Linked DNA regions of Homo sapiens. The protein of the gene in region 1 interacts with the protein of each later gene in a pairwise test. Each region holds a gene or a part of one and is shown on either strand. Other genes may lie near its edges.

What was found.
Region 2: the proteins of CCNG2 (region 1) and NRIP2 interact in a two-hybrid assay, tested with the Homo sapiens proteins (one large-scale study listed by BioGRID and IntAct).

What each region holds. Positions count from the first base shown.
Region 1 is NC_000004.12:77,155,688-77,160,290, reverse strand, and holds the start of CCNG2 (cyclin-G2), read right to left. Parts: upstream 3,085-4,603; 5' UTR 2,785-3,084; exon of another isoform or gene 2,227-2,784; intron 2,128-2,226; exon of another isoform or gene 1,840-2,127; intron 1,759-1,839; coding exon 1,621-1,758; intron 925-1,620; coding exon 787-924; intron 1-786. UniProt on the Homo sapiens protein: May play a role in growth regulation and in negative regulation of cell cycle progression.
Region 2 is NC_000012.12:2,831,969-2,836,373, reverse strand, and holds the start of NRIP2 (nuclear receptor-interacting protein 2), read left to right. Parts: upstream 1-1,338; 5' UTR 1,339-1,390; coding exon 1,391-1,732; intron 1,733-4,157; exon of another isoform or gene 4,158-4,405. UniProt on the Homo sapiens protein: Down-regulates transcriptional activation by nuclear receptors such as NR1F2.

The DNA.
Region 1 (4,603 bases):
AGATTCCTAGCACTAAAGTATAATTTGTATTTCAGACTTATGAAATTCATAATATAATCTCTCCCAAAATAAATTAAGCTTTTTAACACCAAAAAAAAATGTACTGGGATATTAAAATATTTTATACTTATCTTTTTACATAAAAATCTTTAAGAGTCATTCCATATTTCAATGTAATTTTGCCCAAGAGAAATATCACGAGTTGTGCAGAGTGGGACATATGTAAAAGCTGCCATGGACAGATGGCGGCCCTTTTCTTTTCAGTGCCCTGAGAACTGACCCAGCAGCTGACAGCAATCCTACTGGCAGAAGATTCCCCACATTTTTCTAGCCATTGCTGGTGACTGTTAATAAAACCATGGCTCCCTGCTTTGAAGAGACTTCTAGGGAAGGCAGCCGGTCATATTTAATAAACTGTTATACTTCATTTGTCATGCTTCAGTATTTTAAAAATCTGGCTTCAAGAGAAGCATGATGGCAGATGAAATCTTATATTGAGGACTATAAATATATGGCAAATACCTAAAAAATAGTAGTCTCTCTTTTGTCACATATTCAAGAGAAAGTACTTAAGAGGTAAAACCTAAGACACAACAGAAAAACCTAAGATACAACAATACAATTAATCTTGTAGTCTTATTCTGGCACTAACGATCACAATTCTGATTATAAATTTTTATGTACAGTGGACGTTATTATACCCATTCGATAAATATTTCTTGAACCCTGTGTGCTAGGCACTGGGCATAGAAAAAGGAAGACATATTTATAAAAATGATGAAATACCTTCATAAGAGCCAAGAACCTGTCCAAAATATTGACAGCCAGGACAAAAGTTTCAGTGCAAGATCCAAAAAAGTTGGCTAAACTCCTTAAATCTTCAACTTTGGCATTTCTCAATCCTGGACACAAAGTGTTATCATTCTGCAATAAAAACCAAGAACCAAGGTTTACAATTTTCTTAGAACCAGATGAAAAACACATACAGGTCCAAAGAATAAGGTTAATTTTTTCCCAAGAATAAGGTTAATTTTTTTCCCTCAATCTTCAAGAATATAGGTGGAAAGAGTGGTATCGCTTAACTAAAGCTATACACTTTATCATCTGTAAGACGTAAATCACTGCTTCTTAAAAATACGCATCATAAAAGAGCTTCAGCAATTCAATATAAGGTGAACTGTTGCAAGATTTCAGAGAGTTATAGCAAATATAATTCAATTCCCTTGGAATGGAGAGAAAGGGTTCTTTTGTTTGCTTTTCTAAAGTCATTTAAGATTCTACTATAAATATGTATTTCACAGGCAGAGGGTGTTTGCACAAATGAACTACTCAATTCACCCGGGGTCTCCCATCCTGAAGCTGCAGGCTGGAGTATGGGGGGCAGCGAGGAGGGTGCCACATTAAAAACAACAACAAAAAACCCCACTTCTCTAAAGTATCACTCTCATTCTTGCTAAGAAACAAAAGCATTAACCTGTAATAAGGTTTATCTTGGTACTCCAGAAAGAACAACTTTTAAGAAATTTTGCAGGCTTTAGTCATGATTCAACGGGGGCGGGGGGGTTACCTCCTCCAAGCCCCATCAGCTGCTTGAGCAAGTTATCTTTTCTGCCAACTTACCTCCGGGGTAGCCTCAATCAAACTCAGCCCTTTTTCTCGAGGTTGGAATCTCTCTTCTTGTTCCAGGTAGACGTTCAACAACCCGAGAAGTTGGACCCCTTCATGACCTGCCAAGTGCTCTGCCCCCAAATCCTTCATCTGCAGTAAAGACACCACACAGAGAATGTAATCTGGGGGTAAGAGGGGTGGGGAAGCGGGAGAAAGGGCTGAGGCCAGTACCTCCAGCAAGGGTCGCCCCAGCACACCCCGACAAGGAGCGGGTGAAGGGACCAGTCACGTCCGCCAGAGCCCCAGGGCAATCCCCACCACGGCCAGGGAGGTGTGGCAGGGGGAGGAGCCGTGGTCAGGTCCGCCGGCCAGCGCTGGGTAAGACCGGCCAGCCCTGGCCTCTTGGCGTTTCACAAACAGGAAACTGTCCGCGGGCGCCGGCGTCCCCTCGGTCTGCCCCACCTGAAGTCGCGCCAGGGAGGGCCTTCTGCCCAGGGGACTGCAGTGTGGCGAGCGACTGCAGCGGGTCCCGGGGATGGGGTGTTGCACAATAGGGGGGAGGGGAGGGAGAGTCTCGCGACTGAACAAAGAAGCGGAGGGAGGAGACTCCCGAGCCCCGCCCGCCCGGGGCGCCCAGCTGCAGAAGCCCCTCTCGGAGAGTCCCGCCCCCAGCTTTTCCCGTCCGCTGCTGCAGCGCCGATTCCGGACTTACCCGAGAGGCGGATACCCCCGTCCCAGGAGCCCTGGGGTGGCGCGGCACACCCGGCTACGGTCCGGGGAGAGAAGTCCAGTCCAGCCCGCCCGCCCCGCGCCCGTAGGGACAACACCCGTCCACCCACTGATGCCGGGGCCCCACAACTCTGCAGAGCCCCGGGGCTGTCAATTCGAGAAGCACCACGCCAGCAAGTCCCCGTGACAACACGAGCGGGGGCGGGGGGCACCGAGGCGGAGACTGCCCTTAACCTAGTCGCAACCTCCTTCCACCCCACGAGCATCTATCTGTCCATCGCGGGCGCCAGCTCCCCCCGGGGCTGGGGCTGAGGGCAGCACCCTGGTCGCTCCAGCGGATGAGGAGCAGGCAGCACCGAGGCACTCGCATGGTACCAACCTCCTCAAAGCCCACAGTCCCCACCACGAACAAAGAAACCCACGGCGGCCCTGGGCGGGTCCACTCACCGTGCCGGAGACGCGCCTCCACCCGCCCGCGGCCTCGCGGTCCGCACGGACTGGGCGCAGCGGGGGCTTCCAAACCTGTCTCGCAGGTCGGGGACCCACCGCCTCAGCGGTGCCCCCGGTCCGGCATCCGACCCTTCCTCCCAGGCACCGCCGCCTCGGCCTCACAGCCCCGGCTCCATCCCGCTCCCCGCGCGCCCACCCTCCGCCGCGGCGCAACGCCGGCCGCGGAAGACCAGCCCACCGCCGCACCCCCGCCGCCTCAGCGGAAACCTCCCCGAGCCCCTTGTTTTTGTTAAGAGTTTCGACGCCCCCAAGGGGGCGGGGCACGTGACTCCCCGCGGAGGGATCCTGCACTTCCTCCACGGACTTTAAAAAAGAGTCCCGCCCCTAAGCTGCCGTCTCGAGCCTCTCTCGCGGCCTCCCTAGCTCTCCTTGGCTTTGCCGAGCCAGTCCTCCCGCCTGGCGCTAGGGCGGAGAGCGGAATCTGGGCGTCGGGCTTATTCCGCGATTGATCTGCGTTGGGGAACGGGGGAAGACAGAGGGGCGGAAGGAGATCGTTTCTGGTCTCATTACGCCTTTTAAAGGTCCCCGATTTGTTTTGTTTTCGCTGTTTTGAAAAGTCCGCCCAAAGTAGCCGGCTCTCTGATTGGATGCGGGTGGGGCGATGGGCATGCTGAGGACCTGATTCACCCTCGAATCTGGATTGGCTAACTTATCAGTCTTGGAGCCCTCTGATTGGCTTTCTCCGTAGCCTGAGCCTCTCTCTGCCTTGGGGCCTTAGCAACTCCAGGGTCTGGATTGCGCATGCCTGGGTGTGCAGCGGAGAAGGTATTCAGTTACCTGCCCTGCGGGGCTGTGCCTTCTCGCCTGGCTGCCTCCGCCTTTCTTGGGGGAATGTCACGCTCGCGGCGCTTCTCCTAACAGCTAACCTTTGTGACAGCCTTTTCAGCCACGGGAGAGTTTTCTACATTCCTTCTTTATTTTGTCTTGGCGTTCCATTTTGCAATAACCCACCAAATTATTATAACATTGTCGGGGCGTTTACTAAAATATTCAATAAATGCTACAAGTTTGGGTATTTGCTTTAAAATTTTACAGTCCAAGAGAAAAAAAAATGGAGAAGAGAGGTGAAATAAGATAGGCAAAAAGTTGAGGGTCGAAGCTGGGTGATGGGTACTCGAGGCTGCATTACAGTATTCTTTCTAGTTCTGTGTCTTGGAATTTTTCCATAATTTAAAAAAATTCAGGAGGGACTGAAGGAGGGGCTTTTCAATAAAAACTTAGCACGCTGATGAGGGTACGTAAACATCTAATAATTACGGCGTACCTCCAGAGGTTGTAGTGCTGTTGTTTTAATGAAGACTCCCAGAGCTTCTTGGTCCTTGGTAACCCATAAATTATCATTTATTGTTCATTATAATTAGCGTTGTTATTATAGGCGACACGTCTCCCAGGACGGGACAAAAAGCAAACAAACCAGGTGCCTTAGGCCAGAGACACTTTCACACGGAATATCAATGGGGCATGTGGTTGACTGCCCTGGAACATTTATTTGTTTACTCTCTCCCTCCTAAATTAGAAAATACCATATTCGTGAGTTCTAATCTACATAATCAGATAGTCCCTGGGAAGAGATTTCTCCTTTCTGTTCTTCTATGTGTTTTCTGTGAATTATTTTGTTACTTGTGAAATATGGGAAGGCACACAACATAGCTTTGGCAGCGCTCTTCTTTGCGGAGCAGCTAAGGAATTTTAAAACTAGGTCCCTTTGCATATTAGCTCGGACTAAACACAGGCATCTGTTTGGAGCACAGAGCAA
Region 2 (4,405 bases), on another chromosome or scaffold:
ACAGGTAAACAGGTGCTTGGCCAATGCGTTTCCCTGATGGTGAAGAGGAAAGGCTGGAGAGAAAAATCTGCTGATAAGCCAGGGCTAGAAAAAGTCTGATACCAAGTCCTGGAGAGGATGTGGAACCTCAGGAGCCCCTGTGTGCAGCTGTCTCAGTGTGCACTGGTAAAAACACTCTGGCAATATGCCAAAAAGGCAAAGCTGTATATGGGATGCCCCAGCAATTCCACTCCTAGGTGTAGGTGTATACTCTAGAGAAATGCCTACATAGGTGCCCCAGGAGATGTGTGCAAAAATATTCATAGCAGCATTGTTTGTTAGACCTAAAAATGAAAAATAACCTACATTTCCTCAATGTCATGCATGCATCTAATGGAATACTATGTTACACAGCAGGTGAAGTCAATTAACTAGAGCTGGGCATACCGTATGGATGAATCTCACTAACAAAAACTATTCAGCAAAAAAGAGCAGATTGCAGAAGAATAAATACAGTGAGTAGGACAAAACCAACGACATATTGCTTAGAATGCATATGTAAGTATTTGCATAAAGAATATAAAGAAGTCTGGGCCTGATAAACACCAATTTCAGCAGGCGGAAGTGGAAGTGCACAGGGAGCTTCAACAGCTTATTTTTTAAACTGGTGATGAGTGAAGAGTACTGGTTATCTTATTCTTTATAACTTCTGTATATTTGAAATGCAACATTTTTTAAAGAGCCAGGACTTGAGGAGAGTCATATAAAGGAGACTGAGATGCCAGGGACAATTTCTACTCGTGGGAAGATTCAGAGTTGTTCCTGTCATTCCCTGGAACCCAGAATCCAGAGTCAATTAGTTAAAGACTCTGACATCTGCTAGGCGGGAGGCAAGAGACCTAACAAGGTAAGGCTAGGGGGATGAGAGGAGGGAAGGACGCTCTCATGCTGCCCCTCTTTGATCTGAACCCAGTTACTGGCCTGCGCGCCAGCCCTGGGCTGCAGATAATGCCAGGAGAAAACAGCTGGGCAGTCCTGGGAAGCCTGGGAGGGATGCAGAGGAGGGCGGGGGCCACACACGCTGGGAGGTGCACTAAGGCTGCTGCCCCCACACAGTGACAAGCGCTTCCTCGCAAACCACCTGGCACGGGCACCCTGACAGTTTACAGCACTGTCTCTCACTCTCCTTCTCTCTCTCTCTCTCACACACACACACACACACACACACACACACATACGCCCCATCCACCGCCCGCTCTGACCAGGACCCCAGCGTTGGGGATGCGGCCAAGTCAGCCAGCTGTGGGCCCTGCCAACCCTCCCTCTCTTCTAGGACTGGGTTTTTCCAGCCGGAGTCTCACTCCCTCTACAGCAATCTCGGGAAATTGGAGACTGACGCGGCTGCTCCTGCATGTTATTTATTTTTCCTCTTTCCCTCCCGTGGAGACCCTCCTGTTGGAAAGAGAGCTGCAGCACGGGACAGAGACAGGCAGGAAGAAGCAGAGAGGACTCGGTGACGCCCCCACCGAGCAGCCCCTGGCCCACTCCTCCAGCAGGGGCCATGAGCACCAAGCAGGAGGCCAGGAGAGATGAGGGAGAAGCCAGGACGAGGGGGCAGGAGGCACAGCTTCGAGACCGAGCCCACCTGAGCCAGCAGCGCCGGCTCAAACAGGCCACCCAGTTCCTGCACAAGGACTCGGCCGACCTGCTCCCGCTGGACAGCCTCAAGAGGCTCGGCACCTCCAAGGACTTGGTGAGGCATCACCCCTCCCCTGCCAGCGTCCCCTGGCCTTTTCCTTCCACTTCCCAGATCCTGAGCAGGAGGCAGGACCAGAAAGTGCAGACCCTCAGCTTTCAGGTCCCGCTCCCTTGCTGAGATGGGGAGAGGTCATCCTGCCAACTCAAGGCTCTTCACCGGGGATGTTCCCATGGTTTGGTGGCTCTGAGGGTTCCTATTCTCTCATTGCTTGGCTTCCCTTTTTCCTCTAATGGCCCCAAACTTGAGGGTGGTGAGGAGCTAGGCTGTTTAGAAGTGGGGGCTTACAGGAACACAGGAACCCTCTAGAGTGGTCACTTACAACCAGGAGGGCCTGGAGGACTGGCCAGTTTAGGGTTGTGACTTCCTGCTTCCCCCGAACCACAGGTTCCCCAGACCAGGTCTGTCTATCCACTTGTCCTTTCTCCTCAGAATCAAAACATCGGGGGTCTCCATCCTTCCCAGGGCATCAGGGTTTTGTGTGGCTCTTGCCGGGGGCCCCTGGCCGCCTTGAGTGCTGCTCCCCCAACTCCTGAGTGGAATGGACCTTCCAGGCTCCTCTCCTCCCATCCCATGTCTGCAGCAGCTTTGGCCTCAGAGGAATGGGGCAGGGGAGTAACAGTGAGGATGTGAGTGGGCGGCGGAAAACTGCAGATTCAGGCATTCCCCTCTGAGAGGCAATGCTGACAAGCGGGGCTGCGCAGCCACTTCGCTTGGGATCAGATCCTGGCTCTGCCATTTACTAACTTGTGCAATTGACTTTACGTCTCTGTGCCTCAGTTTCTTCATCTGTTAAATGAGAATCAAATCAATCATAGGATTGTTGGGAGAGTTGTTAGAGCTAATATATTTAAAGCACTTAGAACAGTGCCTAATAGCAGGCACTATCTAAATGCTATTATTATTATTCCCCCAGCTATTACTCCATTTAGTCTGAGAAATATTCCTGGCCTCTGACCCGTGGAAGAGAGGAAATCCTTTGTAGAAAGGCTTGGGAGCACTCGGTTCCCTGTCCCCTCTCCTAGTCTGAGAAGAGGTACTCAACCAGGCCTGTACTGACAGGTTGGAAGCATGTCTGCAGGCCTGTGCTCCACCAACTGCTTCTCCCCGGGAACCTGAAGGCCAGTGCAGCACCTCGCCTTTCCCTACTTAGCTCCACCTTTCCAGACTCCTCTCAGCCTGGGTTGCCCCCACCAGGACCACAGCCCAGAGGTCTGGCAATTCCCTAGCTCCCAACGAGAAAAGGGATTGCACTGAGACTTAATTCAGGGAACTGCCAGGGGCTTATTCCTACTTGCAGTGGCAGCAAGCATAGCTGAAAAACAGGGATGGAGCAGGGAAGCGGGTTCTTCGGCTCTCAATGGCTGGAACCTACTGGGGACCATCCTACATGTGTTTGGCCCCAGGAGAAGGTGCTCTACTGACATTGCCATCCCGGAGTGGCAGGTCCCGCCTTCTAATGAGAAAGTCCCGGGCTTTTCACCTCTCCCCTCTGCCTAGGATATCCCCAATTGATCCCTAGCAGTTACCTCCTATGGCTCTGGGAGCAAAGGCACAACAGGCAGGGAAGACCCCATCGTCTCCCTCCCTGGGATGGCTGAGGAGCAAACTGCACAACAGCGGGAGGGGCCTGAAGCCTGTGTTCATCGTGGGAAGGTGGAAGATGGGAAGTGCAGAGCCAGTCTCTCCAGCCAATCCCAGAGCTCGCTGAACTTTTCCCAGCACTGGGTCTACTGCTGGCAGCCTTGCTGCCAGGAGCAACCCCAAGGGCCTCATTAATCTAAGGGTAGAAAAACAATCCCAGGATCCCAAGGAGAGAGGGCAGGTGGAGAGGTGCATAGAGCCTGGGGGAAGAGTCAGTCTGCAGCAAGCATTTATTGAGTGCCTACTAGATGCTGAGCCATGCCCTGGGATATAAAAATGAGTGAGGTAGACTCAAGCGCTCTCCAGGCTAATGGGGGAGTAAAATCCATACATAACATTTGTGAGAAGCATGGAAAAGGGAGCTAAGACAAGGGACCCCAGCTTGGCGTGTATGGAGAGAGGAGCATGAAGAACTCAGAGAGGGTATCCTGGAGAGGGTACATCCTGCATTATAGGATGTACACAGAATCTCAAACTTAAGATACAACCTCTCTCTCAAATAAAGTGTGTTAAGCCAGTCATCCAGTCTAGCCTCGAGAAGAGTGAGGAAGAGGAGTTTCAGGAAGAGAGGAGAGAGGAGAGAGGAGTGAAGACATGGAGGCAAAAAGCGGCCTGGTATGAGCGGTGCTTCTGGGGCCCATAAACAGAGTGGCAGGGAAGGAGGCACGGCCCGGTCATGTGGACTGTGGATCACCTTCAAAAGCTTGAGCTCTATCATGAAAGCAATGCGGGGTAGGGTGGGGGGTCTTTGATGCATTTTAAATAAGAGAAGACATGGTTAGTTTCATGTTTTACTTTGGTGCTTCTCAAACTTTAACCTGCACATGAATCACCTGGGGATCTTGTCACAATGAAACATCTGATTCGGTAGGTATGAGAGTGCATTTTTAAGAGGCTTCGAAATGATGTTAAAGTTGCTGATCTGAGGACCACATTTTGGAGTAGCAAGGTTTTTAGCTTCCAGGCTGAAGCTCCAAGCAGATGTATTTGAAAGGTAACAGGTCTGGAGACAGGTTATGAACTTAA